Linked DNA regions of Homo sapiens: all the other regions are linked to region 3. The links come from fine-mapping of genetic effects on gene expression. A gene starts in region 3. Each other region holds a variant in brackets. All regions are shown on one strand. Distances are from middle to middle.

What was found.
Region 1: its variant is fine-mapped to the expression of STAT6 in whole blood (INTERVAL, PIP 0.92).
Region 2: its variant is fine-mapped to the expression of STAT6 in whole blood (INTERVAL, PIP above 0.99).
Region 4: its variant is fine-mapped to the expression of STAT6 in whole blood (INTERVAL, PIP 0.96).
Region 5: its variant is fine-mapped to the expression of STAT6 in whole blood (TOPMed, PIP above 0.99).

Annotation. Positions count from the first base shown.
Region 1 is chr12:56,981,257-56,987,444 of GRCh38, reverse strand. It overlaps LOC124902945 (a long non-coding RNA gene), which reads left to right. Exons shown (of 4, transcript XR_007063333.1): 3 at 6,018-6,188. It also overlaps the pseudogene LOC390332. Among named protein-coding and RNA genes, the nearest start is that of ACKR5, 10 kb to the left of the region's middle. The variant A/G (reference allele first, on the strand shown) is at 3,720.
Region 2 is chr12:57,080,618-57,086,805 of GRCh38, reverse strand. It overlaps a transcript of NEMP1 not described here. Among named protein-coding and RNA genes, the nearest start is that of NEMP1, 4.9 kb to the right of the region's middle. The variant AAACAG/G (reference allele first, on the strand shown) is at 2,847.
Region 3 is chr12:57,108,825-57,115,012 of GRCh38, reverse strand. It overlaps STAT6 (signal transducer and activator of transcription 6), which reads left to right and starts at 3,651. Exons shown (of 22, transcript NM_003153.5): 1 at 3,651-3,884. It overlaps LOC124902946 (a long non-coding RNA gene), which reads right to left and starts at 4,291. Exons shown (of 2, transcript XR_007063334.1): 1 at 3,172-4,291; 2 at 2,134-3,056. RefSeq lists a silencer at 2,433-2,592 and enhancers at 2,632-3,577, 3,578-4,525.
Region 4 is chr12:57,425,997-57,432,184 of GRCh38, reverse strand. R3HDM2 (R3H domain containing 2) reads left to right here and starts at 1,142. Exons shown (of 24, transcript NM_001394031.1): 1 at 1,142-1,465. R3HDM2-DT (R3HDM2 divergent transcript) reads right to left here and starts at 1,069. Exons shown (of 2, transcript NR_185976.1): 1 at 755-1,069. RefSeq lists a silencer at 1,241-1,710 and an enhancer at 1,891-2,000. The variant C/TC (reference allele first, on the strand shown) is at 2,961.
Region 5 is chr12:56,915,549-56,921,736 of GRCh38, reverse strand. No RefSeq gene overlaps it. Among named protein-coding and RNA genes, the nearest start is that of SDR9C7, 16 kb to the left of the region's middle. The variant T/A (reference allele first, on the strand shown) is at 3,033.

The DNA of each region.
Region 1 (6,188 bases), 130 kb after region 3:
CAGTCTGTACCCCTTTCTGTAGTCTCCTGAGAAGGAGATCCCTCCTGTCCATCAACACCCTGATACAAACTGAAGTAATACCTTTACAGTTACTAGGGTTCATATCCTTCCCTGCTTGGGCAAGGTTTTGGACCACCATCCTCATTGTCCTTGTTCAAATGAGCAATGTTTTTAGCCTCTCAGTGTCTGAGGGGTCCAGATCCTGGATGTGGGCCCTGACAGGGGAGGGCAGAGGGCAGTGGAGCCAGCACCCAGGGCATATCAGGAGGTGAGCAGGTGAGCCCTGTGACACCTGCATAAGTCATTCCATTCCCCTTCCCAGCAGCCCTGGGTACTTCCTTCCTGTGGGTTCCAAGGCTCCATTCCCTTCTTTCCCCTTTCTTTACCTGTGAGGTTGGACTCTCCCTGTGGGTGTTCCACATCTTTCTGCCCCAGAAAACTACTGTAGCAGGAGGGGACTTGCTCTTGTTCACTTTTTTGCCTTCTCCTTCTCATCCTAGAGAGCCTGATCGTGCCCTACTTTTCTGGGGAGTGATTGATTCTGGATGCTGGGTGGGATGAGGAAACTCAGGCTCAGAGCAGGATTTCCACTGAATGTGCCTGGAAACCATGTGTAGCTTCCCAGTAAAGTCTGTTTTCTGGGAGACCATGGTCCAGGAGTGTTGGTATACAATGTGTGTTAGGCCGTTCTTGTGTTGCTATAATAAATACCTGAGACTGGGTAATTTATAAAGAAAACAGGTTTAATTGGCTCATGGTTCTGCAGGCTGTACAAGCATGCATCTGCTTGGCTCCTGGTGAGGCATCAGGAAGCTTATAATCACTGCAGAAGTCAAAGGGGGAGCTGATTTGTCACATGGCAAGTGGGAGCAAGAAAGAGAGAGCTGGGGAGGTGCCACACTTTTAAACAACCAGATCCCATCACAACTCATTCCAGTGTCTCCAGGACAGCACCAAGCCATGAGGGATCCACTACCATGACCCAACACCTCCCACCAGCTCCTGCCTCCAATATTGGGGAACGCATTTCAACATGCAATTTTGGTGGCACAAATATCCAAACCATATCACAAGATATGTAGAGACAAGTTCTGACCCTTGTTTGTAGATCAGAGTGGTGTGTTTCATGGTGTGTGTGTGTGGGCCCCTGTGTGGACACCTGAGTAGGCACAGCAAGGCAGAGAGGCATTGGTGGACTAGGGAAGCATTGCTGAGTAGTGATAACTACTCACTGGGCAGAGCTTGGGGTTTGCAGTTGCATGCATGAACACCTGCAAAGGCAGTTGAAAGAGCAGAGAGATGAAGCCAGGATAAAAAATGGTGCAGAAAGACAGTGATCAGAGAGGAAAGTGAGGACTTTCTGCCAAAATGCCTGAGGGCTTCCCTGCCTACCTCAGCCCTCTGTGTTCTTAAGTCCTCCTGTCTGAACAGAGGCCAGACTCTCACTTCACCCCAGCCCGTCTGGGTCTGTCCTCTGCAAAGCCATGTGGCTCTACCTGGCGGTCCTCCTGGGCCTATACTACCTTCTGCACTGGTACTGGGAGAGGCAGGTGGTGAGTCACCTGAGAGACAAGTACGTGTTCATCATGAGCTGTGACTCACGCTTCAGGAAGCTACTGGCCAGACAACTGAATGCACAGGCTTGCGGGAGCTGCATGTAGGACAGAGAAGGGGACCAAGCAGCTGAGGGGCCAGACTTCAGACAGGCTGGAGACGGTGACCATGGACATCACCAAGACAGAGAGCATTGCTGCAGCTGCCCAGTGGGTGAAGGAGTGTGTGGGGGACAGAGGGACCACCTCAATCCCTCCTAGTGCCTGTTTGTTTCTCTTCTCTCTGTGTCACTAGGGGAGACCTAGTGTCTGCTAACTGGGAACATTTCCAGGACTTTTATTTTCGGGGGCTTGAGCTTTCTGTTTTCCAAAGCAGAAGTCCTAGAGTGGTTGTGGCTGGGCCCAGGGTTAGAGGAGTCCAGGCTGTGGTTAGAGCCCAGTCTCTGGATAACGTTGGGTCCTGACGGTTGGCATGAGACCATCGGGGATGGGGCTGGGCAGGATCCAGGCTTCTGATCTCAGCATTCTCTTACTGGTTCCTTCACACTTGTCCCTGTTGAGGGCTTTAAGATGATCTCCGCTTGATTCACGAGGACACTGGGGCTTGGAGAGCTGAAGGGACTTCACATCAAACACCGAGTGATGAATCCTGTTCCTTTTGGGGAAAGGGAGATCATTGATTGCTTTGTTCTGATTGTAAATGGAAAACATGAAGAAATTATAGAAGAGGATAAGATTGGATAGATAGGAGGATAAGATAGGATTTCTCATTGGAGAAATCATAGAAGAGGATGAGAGTGAAACAACATTCCCCCTAATCCCAGCCTCCAGGGTTAATTTCCCTCTACTTTACACATTCTGGGGTCAGCATTTTCATCATCAAGTTTCTTCCCCAACATAACAATCAAGGTCTCCATATTCCAGCATGTGGAGAGGCCATAATTTGTTAAAGGGATTCTATATTGTTGAATGCCGAAGTTTGTTACCCACTTTTCCTGGCATAAATAACATCTCAGTAGCGATTCTCTACCAAGGTTTGTTGACAGGCTTAGCAGTGCTATTCAAGAAAAGTACAACTATTGAATCAAAGAATCCTCATTCCTTCAAGTCCAGGAAAGGTTTCTGAGTAGGGGAAGGGCCACCATTGCAGGCCTTATTGTTTTTCCAATATTCCTAGGGTCAGTCTCCGTCTCCTGTACCCCCCAGCCCTCACCCACTCACACCCCTGCCCCTGCTGGCCTGGAGTCCGTAGTTCTGTAGCTCTGACTACTCCAGATCTTTCATGCTATTAGTTTGCTCCCCTATGTCTTCTGTAGAGTCTTCCCCAAAGCTTGCTGGACCCTATGGGGATAGGGCAGAGGTGGCCTTATGAGATGGTGGGAGGAAAAGGTGGTACTTCCTGGGGCAGAGAGTGCAGTCTGGACACCTGTGTGGCATGAGACCTCTTTCCCTCCTCCCCTCCTGCTCTGGCCATTCAGTCCACAGTGAGCTTTGGGATTCCCAGGTACACAAGGTGACCTTTTCTTCCAGGACAGATATTGCCTTGACATTGATGCAGGTTGTAGCACAGCTTGTCCCCTGATGCCCAGTGCAGGCCTGCTCTCTAACTTCCCCTAGTCTTAGGATTTAAGTGTATCTCTCCTAAACAGGATGCAGAAAGTAATTACTCATGTGTTTTTCTTATTCTTTCCTTTTTCTTTTTCTCTTCTGTCCTTTCCCCTTGGTTTCTCTGTCTTAGCCCATTCCTGTCTTCCTATTTCCTGTCTCTGTCTCTCTCCCCTGGAGAGATATTTGTTGGACCCTCATTCTGTTTTCTCAAGTTCTGTCCATGCACTTCACAGCATTGGCTTTACTGCATGCTGGGTGCCAGGCACTAGGAGCAGAGATGGGAAGGACCACCCCTCACCCCCCAATACCTTGAAATGGGTGCAAACCTTGAAACTCTGAAGCCTCCCCATCCTTGTTTCCTCTCCTCCACTCCTTTCCCTTATTCCATGTAGCACACTTGTTGACTCAATAAATACATTGAACTAGAAAATGAACTTGCACCCTAACTGTGTCCACCTGCACAAACACAAGAGTGATGCTCTCATCTTCTGGCCATCCCAGGACTCTGGGGCCTGGTGAATAACTCTGGCATCTGCCTGCCCTCCAGCTGCAATGAGT[A/G]GTTGATGGAACAGGACTTTGTGACCTGTTGGTCACAAAGTGACCAACTTTGTGATGGAACTGGACATGAACCTGTTGGGGATGATTGATGTGACTCTGATCCTGCTGCCCTAATGAGGAAGGCCAGGGGCTGCATGGTCAACCTCTCCAGCATCGCAGGCCGGGTTTCACTTTTTGGTGCAGGCTACTGCATCTCCAAGTACAGCGTGGAGGCCTTCTCCGACTCCCTCTGGTATTGGCCTGGGACAGGGCCCTCCCTCATCCTCCTGCACCTGTTCTTCTGTGGGAACCATTTGCAGTAGTTTTATGTAATTGTAGCCTTAGAGGCCCCTTATTGAGATCCCTCTCTCTCATCCTGTGTGTGCTGTTGCCCTTATGGATTTAGCCAGCCACTTCTTGGGAACAGCTTCTCCATGTTCTGGGGAGGGAGGGGCCCCAGACCAAACAGTTCCTGTAACTCACCTTTGACCCTATTGAGGGGGTCCCATAGGCAGAAAATGTCTGAGGCAGACTGGAACTGACATGTTTGGCTCCAGAGCCCAGAATGAAGCCACTGTGACATGCAGTTGCAGGGAGCCTAGGAGACATGGGGTGAGCATCTTAGTCCATACAACAGACTTTTTAGGCCCTTGGATGAGTGCCCAATAAACTCAGCCCAGGACAGCAACAGGGTTTTGGCCCTGACCTAAAAGCTCTGACACCTGAGAGAGGAGCAAGAGAGCCAGAACCATTGTTGCCAGTTCTCAAAGGGGTTGTGACCCAGTCAGCCCTGGTGGCCATGGCAGCCTCCTGGATTGGGGAAGCTCCTGGAGATGGGGTCTGAGCTGGAGATTGAGGATCCCCACCTGGCAGCCTTGGACAGAAATGGGGGAATGACTTTTGTCTTCAGCCCAGGCCTAGGGGGAGCCTCAGCTGCCTGCCTGTGCTGTGGGGTCCTCATGAGGTGAAGCACAGGGCCAGGCCTGTGGAGGAGGCTGGGCAGGTGGGCGCATATGGGCTCGTGGAGGCCCTGGACAGGAGCTGTGCCTCATACTGTTGGCAGTGGAACCCCCAAAAAAGGGATTTGCTCAGGGGAGCTCTTTGGTCTAATCGGCTTCTAGACACCCACTTACTGCAGGGAGCCCAGTGGCTGTGAGTGTGGGGAGCCAGACTGAAGGCAGAGGGACGCTCCTTAGAGGACAGCTGCCATCACCCAGCTCAGAGGCCAGGGAGATTCCTGGGGCAGGAGAAGAAGGGAGGGGACTGAGGACTGCAGAGGAGGTAGAATGTGGGAATTCTGGTGATCCATTGGATGTGAGGGGCATAGGAGGTGATAGCACTGAGATGCTGCCTTGCTCTTGAACTGGTAGGACTTAGGGCTAGTAAGCTTTGGTATGTAAAATATGGAAACCCCAGAGAGAGGCAAGGCCACCATCATAACTTTTATCTGCTATCTGCTGCCCTTCCCAACTCTCCAAGCTTTCTTGCATCTCCCACTGTCGTTGCATGCTGGGTTTGTATTGGGTTTCTTTGTTTTTTGTATTTTGCCTCCCAAAATTTCTTAAGTCCTTGCCCTTCTGCATGTCTGCCATGCAGGAGGGAGCTCTCCCACTTTGGAGTGAAGGTGTCTGTGATTGAACCTGGTCACTTCAGGACCAGTATGGCCGGCTCTGAGAGGCATTTACAGAACCTCAAGGAGCTGTCGGACTAGGCCAGCCCCGAGGTCAAGGAGACGTATGGGGAGAAGTTTCTGATATCCCGTGAGTGAGCTGTGGACAGTGGGGAGATAAAGAAATCCTTGTCTAGAAGTCTGGGTCCATCATTAGTGCCTCCAACAGTATGAGAATCTGTCCTCCAAACTCTGCCTCCCCAACAAAGTGAGGACATTTAGTCCATTTAGCTGTGTGGTCAACTGGTCACCTAAAAGAAGAATTGAAGCTCCTATAATTGAAACCACTGGCTAATCTGAACCTCTCGTTATTTTGAAGAGGAAACTAAAGCCAGAGAGGGTGGACACCTGTGGGCTCATGGGCAGCTGGGTTTAGAGACAGCTGATTTTCATGTTCTTAGGCTGTTAGTAGAGACCTTCAATTTATGCAGTCCAGATATCTCAGGAAGAGAGGCAGAGGGGGCTTAGTGTGGAACAGGTTTTGCTGCAGTGAGGGTTGGGGCACTCCCTGGGGAATATGGGTGGATTAGACTTGAGGCATATCATTGAGGGGCCCAGGGATTCTTAGACACTCTCCTTCCAATTCAGAGCTCTAAATGGGAGGGGAGGGATGTGCTAGTACATTAAGGATGTTTTCTCATTCTGAACAGGCCTCAGAAAAGCACCTAGGAGCCTTTGGTCAAAATGCAATACAAATCTATCATTGGTGACTGACTGCATGGAGCATGTGCTGACCGCCTGCCACCCCTGCACTTGCTACACAGCTGGCTGGGACACCAAGCTTCTCTACCTCCCCATGACCTACATGTCTACCTTCCTGG
Region 2 (6,188 bases), 28 kb after region 3:
TCTCTCTCTAGGTTTGTGTATGAGCCCCTATTTAAAAAATCATTGACTTGTCAGGGCCCGCCAGAGGCCCAGAGCGCCCCCGCAGCCCGCAGCCAGAGCTGCCGAGATGTCTGTTCTTCCCGCCCACTCCTGCCACCCCCAACTCCCCTCCTACTCCCTTCCGTTGAGAACAAGGAATTTCCAGCCTGTAGCAAAGGGAAAGAGGCAAAGACAAAGACGGAGACCATGGGAAACTATAGAAAAACATAAAGAGACAGGTGTGTGTGTGGGGGGGGGGGAGTGGTGACAAAAAGGGAGTGGGGACAAATACAAAAATTTTCATTTGTTTCCTGCATGGGACCTGTTCTCCCCTGTGTCCCCTTGGCTCACTCAAAGAAGGACCACTTCTGTGCCTGACTCACCTGCTCTCCCCATCCCCAGTGCTCTCAAAGACAGACCAGAGGAACTGATCTCGTGATAAAAAGGATTAATATTCTTTTATCTGTGCTGGTCTCCTCCGTGAAGGGAAACAGTATCCTCAGTCCTAGTTTTCCAAGAAAAGGGGAAACGATTGCGAGGAAAGGGAGGAAAGTGGGCGGAAGAGGAGTGCAGAGACTGTCGTCCCTACGCGCACGTGTAGATTTTCATCTAGCAGATTGCTCTGCTCACTCCTCCCCCAACGTCTCCACTGGGCCAGATCCGACTCACTCAGCAAGGTTTGGCTCACCCTCTCCTTCCTGGACCCCTTCCACTCCTCCAGGCAGAATTAATTCCTCCCACCCCTCGGTGGCCTCCTCATTGCTCTTTGTACACATTTCCAATTATAGTTGCTTGTTTCAGCCGAAATCCAGGACCTCTCCAGGATAGGCCTGTTATCTGGTGGACCCTCTGAAATGAATAAATTGATCCTATTCACAGGCCTGTGCAACTTTGAAAGGGCACATGACACAGATTTTACTCCCAAAGGGGCTGAGCCTGGGCAAAACTGTTTAAGTGAAGACATTTGTTTTCCATATCTCTTTCCCTTGTAAAGTTTCCAGTGAGTCCCACAAATCTGGCTCCTTGGCCTTCTAAAATGTCCACCATTCTGGTAAATTAATTCACACTCAGATGCTAAAGGTAGTAGGCCGAAGTCCTGGCTGGTAATAGAAAAGTATAAAGTAATGATCCCTTTTTTCTCTTTCAGTAACATGGCAGAATTTATCATCTAAGGAATGTTGTCCTTCAAGTTAGTTATTTTACAAGAAATGTTTCACTCCTGAAAGACAGATAATCCTAACCACTGCCTTTAAGGAGCTCACAGACTAATAGGGGAAATAGACCTATAAACGAATAATTACAACATAGTGCAATAATATGGGTACAACAATGACAGAAGTATAAGAGGGTGAGTGATCTGTTCTGCTTGGAGTTGTGAGGGGCCTTGGTTTAGACAGGCATCCAAAGGAGGTGATGATGCAGTCAGTATGAGATTTCCAGGAGTGGCCAGGGCGGTGGCTCACACCTGTAATCATAGCACTTCAGGAGGCTGAGGTGGGAGGAACATTTGAGCCCAGAAGTTGAAGGCTGCAGTGAGCCTTGATGGCGCCACTGCATCCCTGCACCACAGAGCAAAAAGTGAGTCTCAAAAACAAAAAACAAAAACAAAAACAAAAATTCTAGGAGGAAGGGAAGTCAAGTCAGAGAGGCCAGAAAGTGCATTTCCATGGAGGTGGAGGTATGAAACAGAGTGATATGTTTCAGAAACTATAAAAGGTTGTTCATTATTGCTGGGTGGTGGGTGGAGCTGGTTAGAAACGAGCCTAGGGAGGTGTACAGGTACATTACATTAAAAATATTTTGGACCAGTGCTTTTCAAAGTATGGTTAAGGACCAATTTTTAAAACATTTCCAATCTATTATTGTCCACTACTTTTGTAGAATGCACTAAAAATGAATTATTCAAAAAACAAAATAAACTACCATTTTGTTAGATTCAATAAATATAAAATTTCTCTGTCAAATTCCTATAAAACTTTCTAAATGCTTACACTTAATTTCTGAAATTGTTTCATTACAGATTGGTGACAAACATTGAATAACATTATTATAGTTATTTGTGTCTTTGCCTCTGAGTTTTAGATCATACTAAGGATGTTGGACTTCATCCTGTGGTGTTACTGGAACCATAAAGACTCTGGAAACAAAGACTCATGGCATGGTCAGATCTGCACTTAGGAGCAGAGTGGAGGAAGGATTTATGGCTGCAAAAACAGTAGGAAGGTCAGCTTGAAAAATACTGAAGGACCCTCTCAGTTGAAAGATGGCAAGGCACTGGCATGGGGGGAAAGAACAGATTCAAAATATAGAAAATAAGATCGACAGGACTTGATTGATTGGCTGAGGGGTTGAGAGGAGAGAATGAGGGTTTAGGGTGACTCTCAGGCTCCTAGCTTGGGTGACTGAGTATGTGGAATGGAGTGTTCCTTCTCAAAACTCTGGAATAGCCTTCATCAAATATTCGTGGCCTGCAAATCCTTTATCCACAATTCCTAAATTTAAAAAAATTATGAAAACCAAAAGCTTGACCGGGTACTGTGGTTTATGCCCTTAATCTCAGCACTTTGGGAGGCTGAGGTGGGTGGATCACCTGAGGTCAGGAGTCCAAGACAAGCCGGCCAACATAGCGAAACCCCGTCTCTACTAAAAATACAAAAATTACCTGGGCGTGGTGGCGCATGCCTGTAATCCCAGCTACTCGGGAGGTGGAGGCACGAGAATCGCTTGAACCTGGGAAGCAGAAGTTGCAGTGAGCCGAGATCGCGCCATCGCACTCCAGCCTGGGTGACAGAGTGAGACTCGGTCTCAAAACAAAACAAAACAAAACA[AAACAG/G]AAGAAAACAAAAATTAACTGGGCGTGGTGGCGGGCGCCTGTAATCCCAGCTACTCGGGAGGTGGAGGCATGAGAATCGCTTGAACCTGGGAAGCAGAAGTTGCAGCAAGCTGAGATCACGCCATTGCACTCTGGCCTGGGCGATAAAAGCAAAACTCCGTCTCAAAAACAAAAACAAAATCTTTTTCATAACATATTTGACAATAAAACCTAATCTGAACTGAATTTATTTTGTGGCAGAACCTGACCTAAACTTACATAAGGTTATTTATAGTTTTCACTTTTCCATCTTTCACTTACCACAGTATGAAGTCATATGTGTCATTCCAGAAATATTAATTTGTTTGATTACTGGGTGCTGTCCTGATGCATTGGGATTGTTGCTTTATATTTTGTATATGCACCATACTATCTTTCAAAAATCCAAAAAATTTTGAAACACATTAACCATCCAGATTTCCCACCCCATTTACTCATCAGTGTTGGCCTGAGTTCTTTTGGCTATTTGCATAAATCCAATCCACCTGCAGATAATGAATATTCATTGCATTGTGTGTTATAGACTCTGAAGGAGATTCTTGTTGTTTTGAGCAGTGTCCTCATTAAAACAAAGCTAAAAGCTTCTTGAATGACTATCTTGAAATGACAGCACTCATTTGGATGATAAGTTGTAATGTGTTTATGGACAGCCAGTCTCATTACCATACACTTCATTTATATATTTTAATAGTCAGTGGTCAGTGATCTTCTGAAATTAGTTCCCCTGGATTTGCTTTAGTGAAAACCAAAGAGCAAGCTCTGAATGATGAGAATGGGGCCTGATAAAAAAAAATGAAGTATGTGTATATATATGTGTATATATACCTACACATAAAAAAATACATATACATATCTATACATATATATTAGCCTTTATTTTATTTTATTTATTTATTTTGAGACAGGGTCTCACTCTGTCACCTAGGCTGCACAGTGGTGCAATCACAGCTCATTGCAGTCTTGACTTCCCAGGCTCAGGTGATTCTCCCACGTCAACCTCCCAAGTAGCTGGGACCACAGGTGCATGCCACCACACCTGGCTAATTTTTTTTTTTTTTGTATTCTTTGTAGAGACGGGGTTTCACTATGTTGCCCAGGCTGGTCTCAAACTCCTAGGCTCAAGTGATCCACCTGCCTCGGCCTCCCAAGACATTGGGATTACAGGCATGAGCCACTGCACCTGCCCAATTTATTCATTTTTTTAGCAACAAGGTCTTACTCTGTCACCCAGGGTGGAGTGCAGAGGCATGATCATGGCTCACTGCAGGCTCAACCTCCCAGACTCAAGTGATCGTCCCATCTCAGCCTCCTGAGCAGCTGGGACTACAGGCACGTGCCAACACACTTGGCTAATTTTTGTATTTTTGTAAAGACAGAGTCCTACTATGTTGCCCAGGCTGGTCTTGAATTCCTGGGCTCAAGCCATCCTCAGACCCGGTCTCCTAAAGTGCTGGGATCACAGGTGTGAACCACTGAGGCTAGCCAACTTTATTTTTAGAAACATTACATGTACAGAAAAATTGAAAAGATAATATGGTGAATTCCTATATACCCTACATTCAATTTCCTCAATTATTATCTGACATTAGTATGGTACATTTAGCACCATTAATGAAACAGTATTGAAACATTATTATTAACTAAAGTCTACAGTTTATTCAGATTTCCTTTGAGTTTTTGTTGTTGTTGTTGTTGTTTAGACTGAGTCTTACTCTGTCACCGGGCTGGAGTGCAGTGGCACTGATCTTGGCTCACTGCTGCAACCTCCGCCTCCCAGGTTCAAGTGATTCTCCTGCCTCAGCCTCCTGAGTAGCTGGGTTTACAGGTGCCCGCCATACGCCCAGCTAATTTTTGTATTTTTAGTAGAGACGGGGTTTCACTATGGTGGCCAGGCTGGTCTTGAACTCCTGATCTCGTGATTCGCCCGCCTTGGCCTCCCAAAGTGCTGGGATTACAGGCGTGAGCCACCATGCTCAGCCTCCGTGTTTTTTTTTGTTTTCTTATTTTTTGAGACGGAGTCTTGCTCTGTCGCCCAGGCTGGAGTGCAGTGGAGCGATCTCAGCTCACTGCAAGTTCCGCCTCCCAGGTTCACACCACTCTCCTGCCTCAGCCTCCTGAGTAGCTGGGACTACAGGTACCTGCCACCACGCCCGACTAATTTTTTTTATTTTTAGTAGAGACGGGGTTTCACCATGTTAGCCAGGATGGTCTCCATCTCCTGACCTCATGATCCGCCCGCCTCAGCCTCCCAAAGTGCTGGGATTACAGGCATGAGCCACCGTGCCCAGCCTCGTTTTTTTAAACTAATGTGTTTTTCTGTTCCAGGATCCCATCTAGACCACCACATTATGTTTAGTTCTCAAAAACATAATGGGCTGGGCATGGTGGCTCATGCCTGTAATCCCAGCACTTCGGGAGGCCGAGGCGGGCAAATCACCTGAGGTCGGGAGTTCAAGACCAGCTTGACCAACATGGAGAAACCCCATCTCTACTAAAAATATGAAATTAGCTGGGCGGGGTGGCACACACCTGTAATCCCAGCTACTTGGGAGGCTGAGGCAGGAGAATCGCTTGAACCTGGGAGGGGGAGGTTGCGGTGAGCCAAGTTTGTGCCATTGCACTCCAGCCTGCTCAACAAGAGTGAAACTCTGTCTCAAAAAACAAAAACAAAAAAGCCCATAATGATGTTTGGATGACTTTGACAGCTTTGAGGAGTACTGGTCAGGTATTTTGTAGGATGCCTCTATTGGAATTTGTCTAATGTTTTTCTCAAGATTAGAGTGGTGTTATGGGTTTTGGGAAGGAAAACCACAGAGTTAAAATGCCATTTTCATCTCATGTTATCAAGGGTACATAGTATCAACATGATTGATGCTGACTTCCCTAGGTCAGCTGAGGGAGTGTGTGTGTGAAATACAGGATGACCATATCAGCACTGTTGGCCTAGACTTTTCCTTCTGAGAATGAAATCTCTTCTCTTGCCCATAGCTCAGCCCCATTTTGACTTTTTTTTTTTTTTTTTGAGACAAGAGAGGCTCGCTCTGTCACCCAGGCTGGAGTGAAGTGGCATGATCTCGGCTCACTGCAACCTCTGCCTCCTGGGCTCAAGCAATTCTTCTGTCTCAGACTCCTAAGTAGCTGGGATTACAGGAACCTGCCACCATGCTGGGCTAATTTTTGTATTTTTATTAGAGATAGGGTTTTGCTGTGTTGGCCAGGCTGGTCTCGAACTTCTGGCCTCAAGTGATCCTCCCACCTCAACCTCCCAAAAGTGCTGGGATTACAGGCATGAGCCACC
Region 3 (6,188 bases):
TTCAGTTTTATTTTTTAATTTTATTCACTTTATTTTTTATTTTTTGAGATGGAGTCTCACTCTGTTGCCCAGGCTGGAGTGCAGGGGTGTAATCTCAGCTCACTGCAGCCTCTGCCTCCCGGATTCCAGTGATTTTCCTGCTTCAGCTTCCCAGGTAGCTGGGATTGCAGGCACATGCCACTGTGCCCAGATAATTTTTTGTATTTTTTAGTAGAGACGGGGCTTCACCATGTTGGCCAGGCTGGTCTTGAACTCCTAACCTCAGATGATCCGCACACCTCGGCCTCCCAAAGTGCTAGGATTACAGGCATGAGCCTCTGCGCCTGGCCTTTACTTCAGTTTCAAAGAGTGAAGGTCAAGACACTGTTTTTTTTTATGTTTTGTTTTTAATTTTGTTTTAAATTTTTTTTGTAGAGATGGGATCTTGCTATGTTGCCCAGGCTGGTCTCGAACTCCTGGCCTCCAGCAATCCTCCTGCCTCAGCCTCCCAGAGTATTGGGATTACAGGTGTGAGCCATTGTGCTTGATCAAGATGCTGTTATGGGCTGAGTTGTGTTCCTCAAAAATTCTCTTGAAGTCCTAATCTCAAGTACTTCAGGACGTGACCTTATTTTGAAGGACCCCCTTATAGGGTCTTTACAGAGGTAATTAAGTTAAAATGAGGCCATTAGGATGGGGCCTAATGCAATATGACTGGTATCCTTGAAAAAAGGGGAAACTTGGAGACTGACTTGCATACAAAGAGAACAGTGTGTGAACGTGAAAATGGCCAAGGAGGGAGGCCTGGAATAGAGCCTTCCTTCACATCCCTGAGAAGGAATCAATCAATCCTGCTCAGGTTAACCTTGATCTTGGACTTCTAGCCTCCAGCATCTTGAGAGATTTCTGTTGTTTAAGTCATGCAATATGTAGTACTTTGTTACAGCAGCCCTAGCAAACTGATACACTCACCAAATCGATTTTGTGACTCACTATTGGGTTGTAACCAGCAGTACATAGACATAAAGTTATTTTTTCCTTACGCTTTATCTTGTGCAATCGTGTGTGTGTGTGTGTGTGTGTGTGTGTGTGTGTGTGTGTGTGTGACGGAGTCTTGTTCTGTCACCAGGCTGGAGTGCAGTGGCTTGATCTCGGCTCACTATAATCTCTGCCTTCCAGATTCAAGTGATTTCCCTGCCTCAGCCTCCTGAGTAGCTGGGACTACAGGCGCGCACCACCACGCCCGACTAATTTTTTGTATTTTTAGTAGAGACGGGGTTTCACCATGTTGGCCAGGATGGTCTCAATCTCCTGACCTTGTGATCTGCCTGCCTCAGCCTCCCAAAGTGCTGGGATTACAGGCGTGAGCCTCTCTTGTGCAATCTTTACCACCACTCAATGGGATGTCAAGGTCCAGGGGAGGGTGATACAGTCACCCTCACAGTCATGCAGGTGCAGATGTCATTAATGAAGGTCTGACAGACCCTGCAATTGTACAATCTGAAGATGAGTATCTCCTTAAATTTCATACTCTAGGCACTTTACCCTAGCCTAGACTCTGTTGAAGTAGGTATAACTATTATTCTCATTTGAGGGATTGACACCTGATTGTGAACCTCCTAAATGGAGTCATACCCAAGCCAGATTTGCCTCTAAATTCTGTTTTTTCCCCTTACATCACAGTGTTCCCATTGGTATAGTCAGTTACAGAGGGAGTAATATATACTATTTTTCTACCAGTACTTGCTCCTCGCCTTCCTACCCCCTAAAAGGAGCCAAAGTCAGAGATCACATTTACTCTTTTCCCTCCTCCTCTCCAAGTCTTTGGGGACTTGTAGCTCTGACACCCTTAGATGGTGAAACCTGGCTTCACCTACTGTCTGTGGATGTCTGCAGGCAGAGTGGGCACTCGGGAGCACATACAAAGCACGTGTGCCGTGAACACGTATGTGCACACACCTTGATCCTAGCATGGCTTGTTGGACAAGCCAATGGACAGAGTCCCTGCCTGCCACCTCCACCCCTGCTCTCCCTTCTCTTCCATTCACTGTCCTGCAGACACAGCAAACACATACGCACATACACCCTCAATATCCTTTTGGCAGTAACATGACCCCCAAATCTGGGGACTTCTATGTAGGATGGAGACCCTTCTCCTTTCCTCATACCTGGTTTATTATGAACCATAAAAATAGTGCCTGACAGTTACTGTGTGTCAGGCATTGTTCTAAGCCTTCAGATGTTTTACTGCATTTTATTCTCACATTATGGGTTAAGACTTATTTGCTCCATTTTACAGATGACGAGAATGAATCACAGAGTAAATTGCTCAGGGTTGTGTGGTTAGCAGCATTAGCAGGATTTGAACCCAAGCAGCCTGTATCCACAGTCCAGTCTTTTAACTGCTATATTTTGCTGTGTTCAAACCCTCTGCTGCCTGGCTGGGTCCACACACGTGCACTCATGTACAGACCTGCGGGGTAGCAAGGGATGGAGGAGGAGGAGCTGGTTCTGGAAATCAATTCAGGCACCAGGGGGCAGCATAGGCCTAGCTTTGGCCCCTCAGCCCAGCCCCTGCTATGGGAGGGAGGAGGGGAGTAGAAACTTCCTCCCACCGCCCCTCAGACACCACCTCTTCCACACACCGGGGCTCTCAGGTGTCCGGGAGTAAAGGCCTCTCTGGATCCCTTGGTCTCCTCCAGCTCCTCCCCCAGCAAAAACTGCAGAACCCTCCACTAGTTATGTTGATGACTCAGAAGTTGAGCAAGACTGTGTGTGTGTGTGTGTGTGTGTGTGTGTGTGTGTGTGTGTGGTGTTGTGATTGCAATGGGCTCTGTTTGTGAGCCTGCCTGCACGTGTGTGTGTGTGTGTGTGTGTGTGTGTGTGTAGTCTTGTGGTCAGGGAAGTTGTGCATGTGTGTGTTTGTTTCTTGGCGTGTCTCAGTGTTTACCCCAGAAACATATAGGAACTTGGCAGATAGGAACACAGCAGATTCGTATTCAAACTTGCCCCTTGTGAATCTGCAGGCAGCAGCTCCGGCTTGTGCTGGTTCCCACCACAGTCTCAGGAGGGGTGCCCTGTGAGGAGAGAGCAAAGACCAGCTTCAGTCCAAGGGACTCCTAGAGTCTTCCAGAATTCTGAGCTGAGGGTTCCCCTCCCCCACTCCCTCCCGTCAGTGGTCACGAGACCGACCTCTAAGGCGTTCCCTGCCGGAAGGGAGGGGGACCTAGGAGTTGGCTGGCATCGAGCTCCCTGGCGGCTTTTTAGGGTCCTCCACTGGAGGGAGCGCAGAGTCCAGAGGGATTTACTTTTCCTGAGGCCCTGGGGAGCCCAGTCCCTTGTGGGTCCAAACCCCAGCCCTTGGCAGAGTTTGAGTTTGGGAGCCAGGCAGTTAGGGGTGGCAAATCTCTGTTTGATATTGGGTGACTTTCTGGAGAAAAGCTGATGCTTTTGAGGGGGACAGAGTAAGTGGGGGTCAGCCTCCCCCCAAGCCTGGCTCCAAGGCCTGGACCCCAGTCCTGATCCCCCACGTGTTCCCCCACTCGGCACAGGAGGCACACATATTCACCCCACTTTCTTCCTCTTCCTCCTCCAGCCCACTTTCTCTTCTCTGTGTCGTCAGAGCTCCAGGGAGGGACCTGGGTAGAAGGAGAAGCCGGAAACAGCGGGCTGGGGCAGCCACTGCTTACACTGAAGAGGGAGGACGGGAGAGGAGTGTGTGTGTGTGTGTGTGTGTGTGTGTGTATGTATGTGTGTGCTTTATCTTATTTTTCTTTTTGGTGGTGGTGGTGGAAGGGGGGAGGTGCTAGCAGGGCCAGCCTTGAACTCGCTGGACAGAGCTACAGACCTATGGGGCCTGGAAGTGCCCGCTGAGAAAGGGAGAAGACAGCAGAGGGGTTGCCGAGGTGAGGGGTTGCCTCCGAGGTGGGTGCGGGGGCCTCTATGAGTGCATGGGGGTGGATTCGTGGGGGGAGCTCTCGGGATCCTCCCCTGGCTGGGTGGATGGTCCCCAAGAGATGGTTTCAGCTAGTGTTGGTGGCTGGTGGCACTGGGTTTTAGCAGTTTCGAACTCCTGGAGGAATCTGGGAGGGTCCAGGCCTCAGTACTCCCCTCCCCCATGGGTCACGTTTTCACAGCCTCACCCCTGCACCCCCAGGGCCATGGAAAGTCAGGGAAAGGAGGTGAAGGAGTGCCCCTCTGCCCTGAGTCGGGGGAAGTGGCCGCCCCTCCCTGGAAGGTTGATGCCAGAGGGCAGTGGATCCTTGTTAAACCCCTATCCTGCCCTCCACTAAAGGTTCCTGTTCAAGGGTGTGGCTGGGGCGTGAGCAAGCCCCAGATGTAGACCTCATGGTGGCCCAGACGAGGGGGAATTTCCCCCTCAAAACTGCTCCACGCTTGGCTGCTGTAGACGCTGAGATTTCCCAGCGGCGGCGCCGAGTTAACCCTCCTCGTGCTGAACTGGCTCCACCTCCCCGCCTGCCCCCACCGCCACATTCACGCATTGGGCAACTCAGAGAAGCTGTTTTAACTTTCGATCCTGTGGTCCCACAATCAGAGGACTCGGGCAGATAGGGGTTGAGATAAGCGAGTTTAGGCCACCAAGCGGGCGGACGAGGATCCCAGACCTTGCGCTTCCCTTCTGAGTTTGGGAGGTAACACTGGCCCCGCCCCTCACGCCGTGGCTCCTCCCTCCCTTCCCCTTCAAGGGGCTGAAGACAAAAGGTGCCCCTGTCCTGGTCAAGCCAATCGACCCAGCCTTGTTATGGGTTGGGGTGGGGAGAAATGTGTCCTCCTGATGGCTGGGGAAGAAGAGGGGTTGGATATTTCTAGCCAGGGCCATGCCAGGAGGCTGGTCACTCTGCAAGGGGATGCAGAGGAAAGCGGTGCCCACTCACTCCAGAGGACCTTTCTCTCTTGGGCTAGAGAAAGGCCTATTGGAGGAACCTGAGCAGGAGGGGTAAGGATTCTGCCTTGAGGAGAAAAGAGCTGGGGTAAGTGGGCACTGGAGGAAAGAGGGGCATGAAGGTCTTGGAGCAGAAACGTCCAGAGAAGGGACCTCTCCATTTTCCATCCCTCTGAGAGGCCTGGGAGAGGTGAGAGGCTGAACGTGCAACAGGAGGACTTGGGGTTACTGGGTTTGGGGAGACCTGGGGAGTTGTCATCCCATCCTCTCCCTCATCTCTGGGAGAGGGATATTATGAGAAACGTGAACTGAGAGGCCCCTGGGAAACCACTGGTTACCCAGTCCTCCCTGAACCTGGAAATGGGGATGCAACCCCCTCTTCTACTTCCCTGTCCCCTCCTCTCCTTTCTACCTGTTTTCGTCTCTCATCTTTGCCTTCTAGCCCTCCAGCTTCCTCTCTCTTCTAGGCTCTTTCCTCCTAGCTTACTAAACCCGCCTTTTTTCCAGTCTCTTCCATCCTCTTCCTTAGTTCTCTCTACTTTCCTTTTCCACCTCTCCTCCTTCAAGTCTCCTCCCACCTTCCCCCACTTCTTAGGATGATCAGATTTGCCCCTGGAAGGGATCCTAACAACACAGTGCGATGGTTAATCCCCACTCAGATTCAAAGCCTGCTTTCCAAACTCACTTACTGAGTGGCCTTGGGCAGAGTAGAGAAACTCCTTAAGCCTCAGTTTCTTCATCTATAAAATGGGATATTATATATTTTAAAAAGTGTCGTGAGGCCTGAAGGAGATAATACACTGAGTGTAATGCCTCATACACAGTAAGTGCTTAACAAATAGTAGCTGTTATTACTCTCCCATCCTCTTCATCATCTAGCCTTGTGGTTTTCATTTTTATTTTATTTCATTTATTTATTTATTTATTTTGAGGCAGAGTCTCTCTCTGTCGCCCAGGCTGGAGTGCAGTGGCTCGATCTCTGCTCACTGCAAGCTCCGCCCCCCAGGTTCACGCCATTCTGTCACCTCAGCCTCCCCAGTAGCTGGGACTACAGGCGCTCGCCACCACGCCCTGCTAATTTTGTTTTTGTATTTTTAGTAGAGATGGGGTTTCACTGTGTTAGCCAGGATGGTCTTGATCTCCTGACCTCGTGATCTGCCCGCCTCGGCCTCCCAAAGCGCTGGGATTACAGGCATGAGCCACTGCGCCTGGCCGAGCCTTGTGGTTTTCAAATTATCTCATGGAGTCCTAGAATTTTGAGAGGTTTGTCTAGGGATGCCTTTGGCGTCAGGAGGTGGGGAGAGGG
Region 4 (6,188 bases), 320 kb before region 3:
CTACTAAAAATACAAAAAATAGCCGGGTGTGATGGTGCGTGCCTGTAGTCCCAGCTACTCCGGACGCTGAGGCAGGAGAATCACTTGAACCTGAGAGGTGAAGGTTGTAGTGAACCGACATTGCACCACTGCAATCTAGTTGCCTGGGTGACAAAGCGAGACCCCATCTCAAAATAAATAAAACAAACAAACAAACAAACAAAAAACGCCAACCAACCTGGAACTTGCTCATCCTTGAAGGAAAGATGAACTTCATGCCTCTATGACTTTGCTGGAATCTCCATTCTTACCTCTCTAGTGAACTATTTATAGTCTCAAGATTAGCTGGAGTTTCACCTGTAGTTTCTCTGTAACTTACTCAATCTCTTTTACCGCTAAGAACGAATTGCTGTTCCTTGTGTTTCCATAGCACATTTAAACCTTTCTATTATAGCACTTAAATTGTACTATAATTATTTGACTTTTTTTGCCTACCGCAGTTTCTGTCACAAGGTAAATATTTAATGGTCGAATTCTACAAAAGACTACATTGCTTCTTTGAGGGAGTTTGGTCAGTAAATTATCCACACACACATAATCAATAACTAAATTGATTCTGCCTAGAATGGACAAAACGGGGGAGGCTGGACATTTAAGACGATTTTTGAGAACTGTATCTTAGAGAGGGGATGATGGTAAGAATGTGATCTTAATAGGACAGACTGAGTTCCTCCTAGGTCGGTTTTTTTCATCTTTACGTAAAATGGACATTTACCTGCTCAACTATAGTTATCCACGTATGCAACAAATACCGAGTGTACGTTCTTTTGGTACAGGAGTTACTGCCCTAAGTGAAAGTGCTCTGTAAATGGAAATTACTTTAGAATGATCACTATTAGTATTATATTGAAATCCAGGGTATTCTATCTGACAGACTTGAAGGGTTTAAGGAGGACCGAGGCTCCCAGTGACTCCGGATTGGTGTCCTGACACAGGTAACGCGGAAGGAGGAGAGGGCGAGCGAGCGAGTGCGAGTGCGCGCGCGCCGGCGGGAGTGCGTGCGGCAGGCGGTAGGCCCCGCAGGGCTGCTGAGGGGCACGCGGGAAGCCAGGAAGCAGGGACGGCCGGAACGCAGGACGAGGTGACGACAACGCCGGACGTAGTGACGTAGCGCGCAGCCGCAGCGGGGGGCGGACTCTGGGCTTTTCTTCCCCTTCTGATTTTCCCCTCCCCCCTTTTCTCCCTTTCCGGGTTTGGTTCCCCCCTTTTCTTCCCCTCTCCCCCCTCCTTCCCAAGCCCCTTTCCCCTCCCCCGTCCCAGTCCCCCCTGCTTCCCAGCCCTCGGCCCCGGGGAAGCCCCGGCCGAGAAAAGCCCGCCCCCAGAAGCGCGCCGCCGCCGGCCGTCGGGGCCGAGCCGCAGCCGAGCGGCCGTGGGCCCGGGCGGCGGGCGGAGACGTGGGCGCCCTCCCCGCCAAGGCCCGTGCGAGGTGAGGCCACCTCCCGGCCGAGGGGGCGGGCGGCCCGGACGGCCTGTGGGGAGGGGGCGTGGCGGCCGCACGGGCGGGCGCGAGGAGGCCCCGCGGCCTGGGTTCCTCGCGCCCGGCAGCCGGTCCCGGGGACGATGGGTCAGGGTCGGATGGCCGCGGGAAGGACTGCTCCAAGTGTGCGCTGCTGGAGAGAAGCTGGGGGCGCGGGGCGGAGGGCGGCGGTGCGGGGGCAGGGGGGTGGCGCCACCTGTGGCCTTTGCGGGGTGACCTAAAAACTATTGCGCCCTTCCAGTGCTTCGGGGTGGCTAGCTCCGTGTGTTTCTTGGGTGGCGGTTTTCCTTCGAGCGTGGAGCATGGAAAAATAGGACGGAGAGGTGTAGAAGTGTTTAAAATCATGCTGGTGTCCAGGTTTCTTACAGGGACGGGGATTTGAGTTGGCACATACAGGGAGATGTTTCTATAGCTTAAAACTTGGGCCTACACTAAGCTCATAACTACTCGAGCCCCTGAAAACGCTTCGATTCGTTTTCCCGTAGAGCTAACATTTTTCAACATTTGTGGCCATTAAGTCTCGGAACTACCAGGAATACTGACTTAGAGTGAATTGTCATTGGATAATGATGAGAAATGACCGAATAACAATCCCAGAACTGCGTTAAAACGGAAGAAAGAAAAGTGGAAAAGTTTGAATTCAGATCCCAGTTGGATGAATATCCTTGTACATAATGTTGTTCAAATAGATAACTAAGATTGAGAAGCCTGAGTCCTGTCTGATATGCGTAAGCCACGTGGAGACTCAAGGAAGGAGGAAAGTGACAGGTTTCACTTCAGGAATATCACAAATTCCTAGCATTTTCTTGTATTTTTAGATAGATTTGCAGTTGAATTATTTGTGGCTCTTCTTCCTAATGCTTTTTTTTGTTGTTGTTCCACCAATATTCCCCCCCCACCCCCGCCCCCCTTTTTGTTGCTGGGGTATCAAGACAAAAGGTTGTATTTTGTTTTTTGAGACAGGGTCTCAGTCTGTCACCCAGAATGGAGTGTAGTGGTTCCTTTTCGGCTCAATGCAACCTCTGCCTCCTGGCCTCAAGCCGTCCTCCTACCTCAGTCCCCCAAGTAGCTGGGAGTACAGGCATGAGCCACCACTCCTGGCTGATTTTTGTAGAGACGGGTTTCACCTTGCTGCCCAGGCTGGTCTGGAACTCCTGGGCTCAAGTGATCCACCTGCCTTGGCCTCCCAAAGTGGTAGGCTTGAGCCACCGCGCCGGGAAAGACAAAAAGTTTAAATAGTGGTGAAAAGTGGCCGGTTAGATTAATTCAGTTCAGTTTTTAGTTGTATTTTTCTTACCCTGTTGCTGTTCTCCAGAGAGTTGAGAGAAAAGATAACTTTTTTCTTGAAGGCCTGATGAACTCCTAACAAGTTAAATTTCAGAGTTGAAGTTCCATTTGTCTTTGTGTCCATTATATGATTAGTAGAGCTTCACAATTTTTTTTT[C/TC]GTAGGGATGGGATCTTGCTATGTTGCCCAGGCTGGTTTTGAACTCCTGGCCTCAAGTGATCCTCTGGCCTCAGACTCCCAAAAGCACTGGGATTACAGGCGTGAGCCATTGCTCTTGGCAGAGCTTCACAATGTAAAGTTTTAAAAAAATTTGACAAATAAAAATAGCATGCCTGACTGGCCGGGCACGGTGGCTCATGCTGTAATCGCAGCACTTTGGGAGGCGAAGGCAGGTGGATCACCTGAGGTCAGGAGTTTGAGACCAGCCTGGCCAACATGGTGGAACCCCGTCTCTACTAAAAATACAAAAAGTAGCCAGGCGTGGTGGCAGGCACCTGTAATCTCAGCTTCTTGGCAGGCTGAGGTGGGAGAATCATTTGAACCCAGGAGGCGGATTTTGCAGTAAGCCAAGATCGTGCCACTGTACTCCAGCCTAGGCAACAGAGCGAGAGACTGTCTCAAAAAAAAAAAAAAAATAATAGCATGCCTAATATTTTTTAATGGAAAATTAAGACAGGAGATGGCTTCCTTTCTCTTTCAAAATAAAAACCAATGTTACTTTTTGTTGTTGTTGTTCTTTCTCGCTATGTCACCCAGGGTGGAGCGCAGTGGTGCAATCTCGGCTCACTGCAAGCTCTGTCTCCTGGGTAAATGCCATTCTCCTGCCTCAGCCTCCTGGGTAGCTGGGACTACAGGTGCCCCCCCACCACGCCCCCCACCACACCCCCCACCATACCCGGCTAATGTTTTGTATTTTTAGTAGAGACGGGTTTCACTGTGTTAGCCAGGATGGTCTCGATCTCCTGACCTCGTGATCTGCCCACCTCGGCCTCCCAAAGTGCTGGGATTACAGGCATGAGCCACCGCGCCCAGCCAAACCAATCTTAGCTTTAAAGCTCTAGATCTGTGGCACCCTTTTCCCCTAACATGCACACTGGCCTCTGGCTGTTCCTTGAGCACACTAGGCACACTTCTGCCTCAGGGTCTATGCTCTTGTTTCCTCTTCCTGAGTTACTTTTCTCTTACAAAGCTGTGTAAGAGCATAGCCTGTCTGTCCCCTCATCTCCTTCAGGTCTTTACTCAAATTTCACTCTTTTTTTTTTTTGAGATGGAGTCTCGCTCTGTCACCCAGGCTGGAGTGCAGTGGCATGATCTCGGCTCACTGCAACCTCTACCTCCTGGGTTCAAGCGATTCTCCTGCCTCAGCCCCCTGAGTAGCTGGGATTACAGGTGCCTGCCACCATGCCTGGCTAATTTTTTTGTATTTTTAGTACACACAGGGTTTCACTATATGTTGGCCAGGCTGGTCTTCAACTCCTGACCCTAAGTGATCCACCCACCTCCACCTCCCAAAGTGTAATCCCAAAGTGTAGGGATTACAGGTGTGAGCCACTGCGCCTGGCCCAAATGTCACTCTTAACACTGATATTCCCTTGGCTATCTGGATGGCAAAGCCCCTCCTGCATACACATTTACATAACTCTCTATCCCCCTTTTCTGCTTTATTTTCTGCCTTAACCCTTATCAACCTATAACGTATTATATATTTTAATCTCCCCTAGTAGAAAGCTTCAGGGCCAGGCGCAGTGGCTCACACCTATAGTCCCAGCACTTTGGGAGGCCAAGGACGGGGCATCACCAGAGGTTAGAAGTTCGAGACCAGCCTGGCCAACATGGTGAAACCCCATCTCTACTAAAAATACAAAAATTAGCTGGGTGTGGTGGTACACGCCTGTAGTCCCAGCTACTTGGGAGGCTGAGGCAGGAGAGTGGCTTGAACCTGGGAGGCTGAGGTTGCAGTGAGCTGAGATCGTGCCACTGCACTCCAGCCTGGGCAACAGACTGAGACTTTGTCTCAAAAAAAAAAAAGCTTCAGGAGAGCAGGCATTTTTGTTTTATTTATTTTATTTTATTATTATTTATTTATTTTTTTTGAGACAGAACCTCTGTCTGTCGCCCAGGCTGGAGTGCAGTGGCACGATGTCAGCTCACTGCAACCTCCACCTCCCGGGTTCAAGTGATTGTCCTGCCTCAGCCTCCTGAGTAGCTAGGATTACAGGCACGCGCCACCACGTCCAACTAATTTTTGTATTTTTAGTAGAGATGGTGTTTCACCGTGTTGGTCAGGCTGGTCTTGAACTCCTGACCTGGTGATCCTCCTGCCTCGGCCTCCCAAAGTGCTGGGATTGTAGGCGTGAGCCTCTGTGCCCAGCCACATTTTTGTTTTATTAATTTCCGTATCCTCAGCACTTAGCACAGCACTTGATGTTCAGTAAAGTGCACAACAGATTTATTGACTGAGTAGGTAAGGAGGAGTTTTTTCCTTGAACTCTTTCCATGAATTTTTCATCGTGATTAGTTGTCCTTGGAAGGGTGGGATGGGTTTTCACTAGGAAAACCTGGTTTTCTAAGGTACTCATTGAGAGATGTTGAGATGTTTTTTCTGGGGATGTTTCTCTTTGGACAAACATCTCGTGCTTTGGGGCCATTGAATGAAAATACTCTGAGGGCAGAGAAGAGGATGGAGTGTGGAAGTCTTTGGTATTGGTAGTCTTATCTCAGATTTATTGTGGCTAGAATTTTTACCTACTTCATGCTCTTCCCTTGAGGTTTGTTCATGTCCCTTCCAAGACAAATATCACTCGTTACTTCTCTGACCCTACCTAGCTGAGCAGGCTGGTTCCACTTTGAGTTTTCAGTAGCCTGAAGATGTTAATATTTATAGTTCTGTCTTTATGGGCTAGTTCCTACCCTCAACCCCACCAATTCATGTAGAGACAGTTGAGCTTAAAAACTTTAAGAATAGGTTTCTCTAACAATGGTAGAATGTTCAGTTCTAGAGAACACTTGATCCTTTTTTCACAGATTGATTTTGGGGGGCATTTTTAGCAACTAAATCTATGCTAAGTTTGAGGATAAAAAGGAGCAGGCACCCTAAATTCTGTGGGTTATCCCTCATTTTATCTTTCCTTAATTAATTAATTAATTTATTTTTTTGAGATGGAGTCTCGCTCTGTCGCCCAAGCTGGAGTGCAATGGTGTGATCTTGGCTCACTGCAACCTCTGCCTCCTGGATTCAAGGGATTCTCCTACCTCAGCCTCCCAAGTAGCTGGGATTACAGGCATCGGCTACCACGCCTGGATAATTTTTGTATTTTTAGTAGATACAGGGTTCTGTCATGTTGGCCAGGCCACTCTCGAACTCCTAACCTCAGGTGATCTGCCCGC
Region 5 (6,188 bases), 190 kb after region 3:
ATAGATAGCCAATTTGGTACTTCTTTACCTAGGGTGAGATGTTTGATGGGATAAAACACATAAATTTCCTGCACTTTTTCCAGCTTTAGTTTCCCCCAACCCTGATATATTTAGAAAAATTATAGAGTTGTGGGAAAGAAGTAAAACAGAATGTGACTTATGGGTGTACCAAATGACTCAGAGAAAAAGAGACTTTCCCCTATGACAAAGAGATTCACTCTGATGAGATAAGAAGTTGATGTTTGGGGTTCCCAGGACAGGAGGGACCAGGGCCCACTTTCTAGAGCACCTTGGGGGCACACCATGGGGAGGTGACAAGACTCAAGAGAGTCACAGCTACATTGTATGTTTAGGCAGATTCGACTTCAGATGACCTCACAGGAGACTCATGTGTCCCACCATGGCAGGAAGGTAGTAGAAATTTGCTAGATATAAAGGGCATGTAGACTGGAACAGCAGACACTAAAGTGGTAACCTTTAGAAGATAGAAGACTTAATTTTTTGGTCTGAGGGCCATCTCTCCACCTCATCATTAATAGCTGAGGTATTTTTTGAACTTATGAGCTGAGATTCATATATGCTCCAGAGTTACATTTTGGTTGATTTCATATTAGAACCATCACCTTTCTTATATAACTTTTGTATTTTCCTGGAGTTTTGAATTGCCTTTTCTTGTTCATTTATTCAGCTTCTTAATCATTTTTATCTCCATTTTTAAAGTAGGGGAGTAATGTGATCTGATCTATATTTTTAAAAGATCACTGGGGGGCTCTGTGGAGACTGAAATGAAGAAGCAATGGTGGAAGAAAGGAGGCCATTGCATAATCCAGGCAAGAGATGATAGTGCCCTAAGCTGAAATGGTGTTAGCAGAAATGATGCTAATAGATGAAGTCAATATATAATTTGGAGGTAGAACCATTGATGGACTTTAATCATTAGTCAGTCTGTCAAGAAGAATTTATCAGGCTCCTACTATGTGCTAAATGTGGTTCCAGATTCTAGAGTTATAGTGGGGTATAAGACAGAGTCCTTGCCCTCAAAGAGTTTACATTCTAACGGAGGGAGGGGTTGGCCAATAGACATATAAAAAGTGAATGAAATAATTTTATATACTGATAAGTGCCATGGAGAAGAGAAAATATAACAATGTAATAGATGACCAGGGAGGCTGCTTACCTTTTTTTCTAATCAACATTAATGAGGTAAAGTTTGCATAAAAAGAAATGCATCCATCTAAGTGTACCATCTGATGAGTCTTGTCACATGTTTACACCTGTACAACCACCACCAGTCAAAATATAAAACATTTTTCTCATCCTAGAAAGTTCCCTTGTACCTGTCTGCAGTTAATCATCCCTCCTCTCCACCCTGGTTCCAGACAACCACTGATGTGTTTCTGTCACTATAGATTCATTTTGAGACTGCTTACTTTTTAAAAAGACCACTTTTGCTGCCATTGGGGAATGAATTGGAAGAACTGGATTGAAGAGGTGCAAGTCTAGACCTGATAAGAGAAGTGTGACAATAAAATAATAGAAATAAAAATAACTGGCATTTATTGGACATTTATTCAGTCCAAGCACTGCGCTTAGAATTTCCCACATATTATCCATTCAATTTTATTTAATCTCTGCAACAAGTCCTGTGAGGTTACTCCTATGTTATAGAGGAGGAAACTGAGGCTCACAGAGGTAAAGTAATTTGCACAAGATTACACTGCTAATAAATGGCAGAGTCAGAGTGCGGTTCGCCACATGCTACAATAGCAAGCACTTCCAGAGTGCTCACCACATGCCAGACACTGTTCTAAGCACTTTAATTTTCTTTTTTTTAATTTTTTATTTTACTTTAAGTTCTGTGATACATGTGCAGAACCTGCAGGTTTGTTACATAGGTATACATGTGCCATGGTGGTTTGCTGTACCTATTAACCCATCATCCAGGTTTTAAGCCCTGCATACATTAGGTATTTGTCCTAATGCTCTCCCTCCCCTAGCCCCTTACCCTCAGACAGGCCCCAATGTGTGATGTTCCCCTCCCTGTGTCCATGTGTTCTCATTGTTCAACTCCCACTTATGAGTGAGAACATGCAGTGTTTGGTTTTCTCTTCCTGTGTTAGTTTGCTGATAATGATGGCTTCCAGCTTCATCCATGTCCCTGCAAAGGACATGATCTCATTTTTTTAAAATTTTATTATTATTATACTTTAAGTTTTAGGGTACACGTGCACAACGTGCAGGCTTGTTACATATGTATACATGTGCCATGTTGGTGTGCTGCACCCACCAACTCGCCATCTAGCATTAGGTATATCTCCCAATGCTATCCCTCTCCCCTCCCCCCACCCCACAACAGTCCCCGAAGTGTGATGTTCCCCTTCCTGTGTCCATGTGTTCTCATTGTTCAATTCCCACCTATGAGTGAGAACATGTGGTGTTTGGTTTTTTGTCCTTGCGGTAGTTTGCTGAGAATGATGGTTTCCAGTTTCATCCATGTCCCTACAAAGGACATGAACTCTTCATTTTTTATGGCTGCATAGTATTCCATGGTGTATATGTGCCACATTTTCTTAATCCAGTCTATCGTTGTTGGACATTTGGGTTGGTTCCAAGTCTTTGCTATTGTGAATAGTGCCGCAATAAATATAAGTGTGCATGTGTCTTTACAGCAGCATGATTTATAATCCTTTGGGTATATACCCAGTAATGGGATGGCTGGCTCAAATGGTATTTCTAGTTCTAGATCCCTGAGGAATCGCCACACTGACTTCCACAATGGTTGAACTAGTTTACAGTCCCACCAACAGTGTAAAAGTGTTCCTATTTCTCCACATCCTCTCCAGCACCTGTTGTTTCCTGACTTGTTAATGATCGCCATTCTAACTGGTGTGAGATGGTATCTCACTGTGGTTTTGATTTGCATTTCTCTGATGGCCAGTGATGATGAGCATTTTTTAATGTGTCTTTTGGATGCATAAATGTCTTCTTTTGAGAAGTGTCTGTTCATATCCTTCACCCACTTTTTGATGGGG[T/A]TGTTTGTTTTTTTCTTGTAAATTTGTTTGAGTTCATTGTAGATTCTGGATATTAGCCCTTTGTCAGATGAGTAGGTTGCGAAAATTTTCTCCCATTTTGTAGATTGCCCGTTCACTCTGATGGTAGTTTCTTTTGCTGTGCAGAAGCTCTTTAGTTTAATTCGATCCCATTTGTCAATTTTGGCTTTTGTTGCCATTGCTTTTGGTGTTTTAGACATGAAGTCCTTGCCCATGCCTCTGTCCTGAATGGTAATGCCTAGGTTTTCTTCTAGGGTTTTTATGGTTTTATGTCTAACATGTAAGTCTTTAATCCATCTTGAATTAATTTTTGTATAACGTGTAAGGACATGATCTCATTTTTTATGGCTGCATAGTATTCCATTGCGCATACGTGCCACATTTTCTTTATCCAGTCTATCATTGATGGGCATTTGGGTTGGTTCCAAGTCTTTGCTATTGTTAAGTAGTGGTGCAGTAAACATATGTGTGCATGTGTCTTTATAGTAGAATGATTTATCATCCTTTGGGTATATACCCAGGAATGGGATTGCTGGGTCAAATGCTATTTCTGGTTCTGGATCCTTGAGGAATCGCCACACTGTCTTACACTGTCTTCCACAATGGTTGAACTAATTTACACTCTTACCAACAATGTAAAATTGTTCCGATTTCTCCACAGCCTTACCAGCATCTGTTGTTTCAGCACCTTAATTTTCATAACAATCCTGAAAGGTGTTATTACTCCAGTTTTAATGAGAGGAAACTGAGGCCCAGAGAGGGTGATTATAATACATAGCCTATAAGCATCTGGCAGAGCAGATTCTTTGAGTTCTGTAATGCTATTATTTAATTGTTTGTCATTGCTTTATTTCATCCTGGGGAGCATCTCTGTACACATGCATTTGCAGCAGGGTTTTCTGGCCAGCAGCTGTAATGTGGCTTGCTTCTGTTTCCAAGAACTTTCTGAAACCTCTCCTAACTTGCCTTATTTGGGGGCCTCTCCTCCAATTTGTTCCCCGTGAAGACAGGGGCCTCTGTCCTCCAGGGGCTTCTTCCTTTCCTGCGGGACATGCCTGCCTTTCTCAGAAATTTCAGAATCTCAGAAAGTTCCCCGGTCTCCAGTGAACCTCAAACAAAAGGTGAGGAGAGCTGGGTGCAGTGGCTCATGCCTGCACATGGACAGATCACTTGAGCCCAGGAGTGCCAGACCAGCCTGGGCAACATGGCAAGACCCCCATCTCTACAAAAAAATATAAAAAGTTATCCAGTCATAGTGGCGAGCACCTATAGTCCCAGCTACCTGGGAGGCTGAGGTGGGAGCATTGCTTGAGCCCAGGAGGTTGAGACTGCAGTGAGCCATGATCATGCCACTGCACTCTAGCTTGGGCAAGAGGGTAAGACCATGTCTCAAAAGAAAAAAAAAAGAAAGAAAAGAAAAGAAATAGTAAGCGCAAGTGAGAGGAAAGAAGAATTCAGAGGAACATGGGGATCATTGAGCTCCTGCCTGGCTAGCATGTTTGGCATGTTCTTATACAGGAGCAGTGTAAATACTGCCTCTACACCAGAGCAAATGGAAACAGAGGATTTTAATGCCAAACTTGGAGCTGTTAGAAGAAAAATCTGAGCCAAATTACATTGAACAGAGTTTGATTGAGCAAAGAACAATTTGAGAATCAGGCAACCCTGGAACCAAAATAGGTTCAGAGAGACTTCAATCCTGGAAGAAAAGTTACGGAGAGAAAAAGGAAAGTGATGTACAGAAAATGAAGTGAGGTACAGAAACAGCCAGAATGGTAATAGCTCAGTGGGCATTTGCCTTATTTGAACAGTTTGAACAGTTGGCCTCCTTTGATTGACTGAAACTCAGTGATTGGTACAGTCTGTTTTCACAGCCAATTAGGTTACAGTTCATTATACAGAGAAAACTGTATCCCAGACTTAATATATGTAAGGAGGAGCTTTAGGCTAAACTTTTTAACAGAACAACAAGGTGTTCCTTTGAAGCCAAGCATGATGATTAACACCTGTAAACCTAGTGCTTTGGGAGGCTGAGGTGGGAGTAGTACTTGAGGCCGGGAGTTTGAGATCAGCCTGGGCAACATAGTGAGACCCTTGTCTCTACAAAAAGTAATTTTTTTTTTTTTTTAATTAGCTGGGCAGAGTGGCACATACCTGTAGTCCTAGTTACTCAGGAGGCTGAGGTGGGCGGGTCACTTTAGGCCAGGAGGTCAAGGCTGCAGTGAGCTATGATTACATCACTGCATCCAGCCTGGGCAACAGAGCAAGTCTTCATCTTAAAAAAAAATTAAAAAATTTTTTAAAAACTTCCTTTTAGAATTTCTGACATGGAACATGAGGGGGGAGGAATGAAAAAATTGGGTGTGCATATTTAACAGTCAAGGACGAGCTTCAACTGGGAGATGAAAATGCACTACAAGTGGACAATTTTTGAAGGCAGAATTGAGACTTTACTTAGGTGAACTATGAGAGGGCATTGTGTATAAAGAGAGAAATGCCAACTCTTCTTTTTAATTTTGCCAAGTAAGGAAAGATCTGAATTTCTCTTTTTACTGAAGTGAAGGAGAAATCCTTGCATGTGGCTCTGTCACCTTTTCTCTTGAGAGACAGGTGATGGGTGAGCCCTAGCTGGCCCCATAATTTGGCCCTAATTATGGGCCCTGATTAGGGGTCTGAGATTAGTTTCCTCTTCATAGCGACACATCCTTGGGTGGTTCCCAGCCACACGTCTCCTAGCTTTCTCAACAGACCGAAGTTAGAACTGGCTGTCATTGGAGCCGACCTTCAAAAATACTTGGCAGGTGGCCAGGCGCAGGTGGGATTACAGGTGGCTCACACCTGTAATACCAGCACTTTGGGAGACTGAGGCAGACAGATTGCTTGAGCTCAGGAGTTGAAGACCAGCCTGGGCAACATGGCAAAATCCCTACTCTACAAAAAATATAAAAATTAACTGGGTGTAGTGGTGGCATGCACCTGTAGTTCCAGCTACTCAGGAGGCTGAGGTGGGAGGATCACCTGAGCCCAGGAGTTTGAGGCTGCAGTAAGCCAAGATCACATCCCTGCATTCCAGTCTCGGCAACAGAGTGAGACCCTGTCCCAAAAACAAAAAACAAACAAACAAAAAACCTGGCAGGT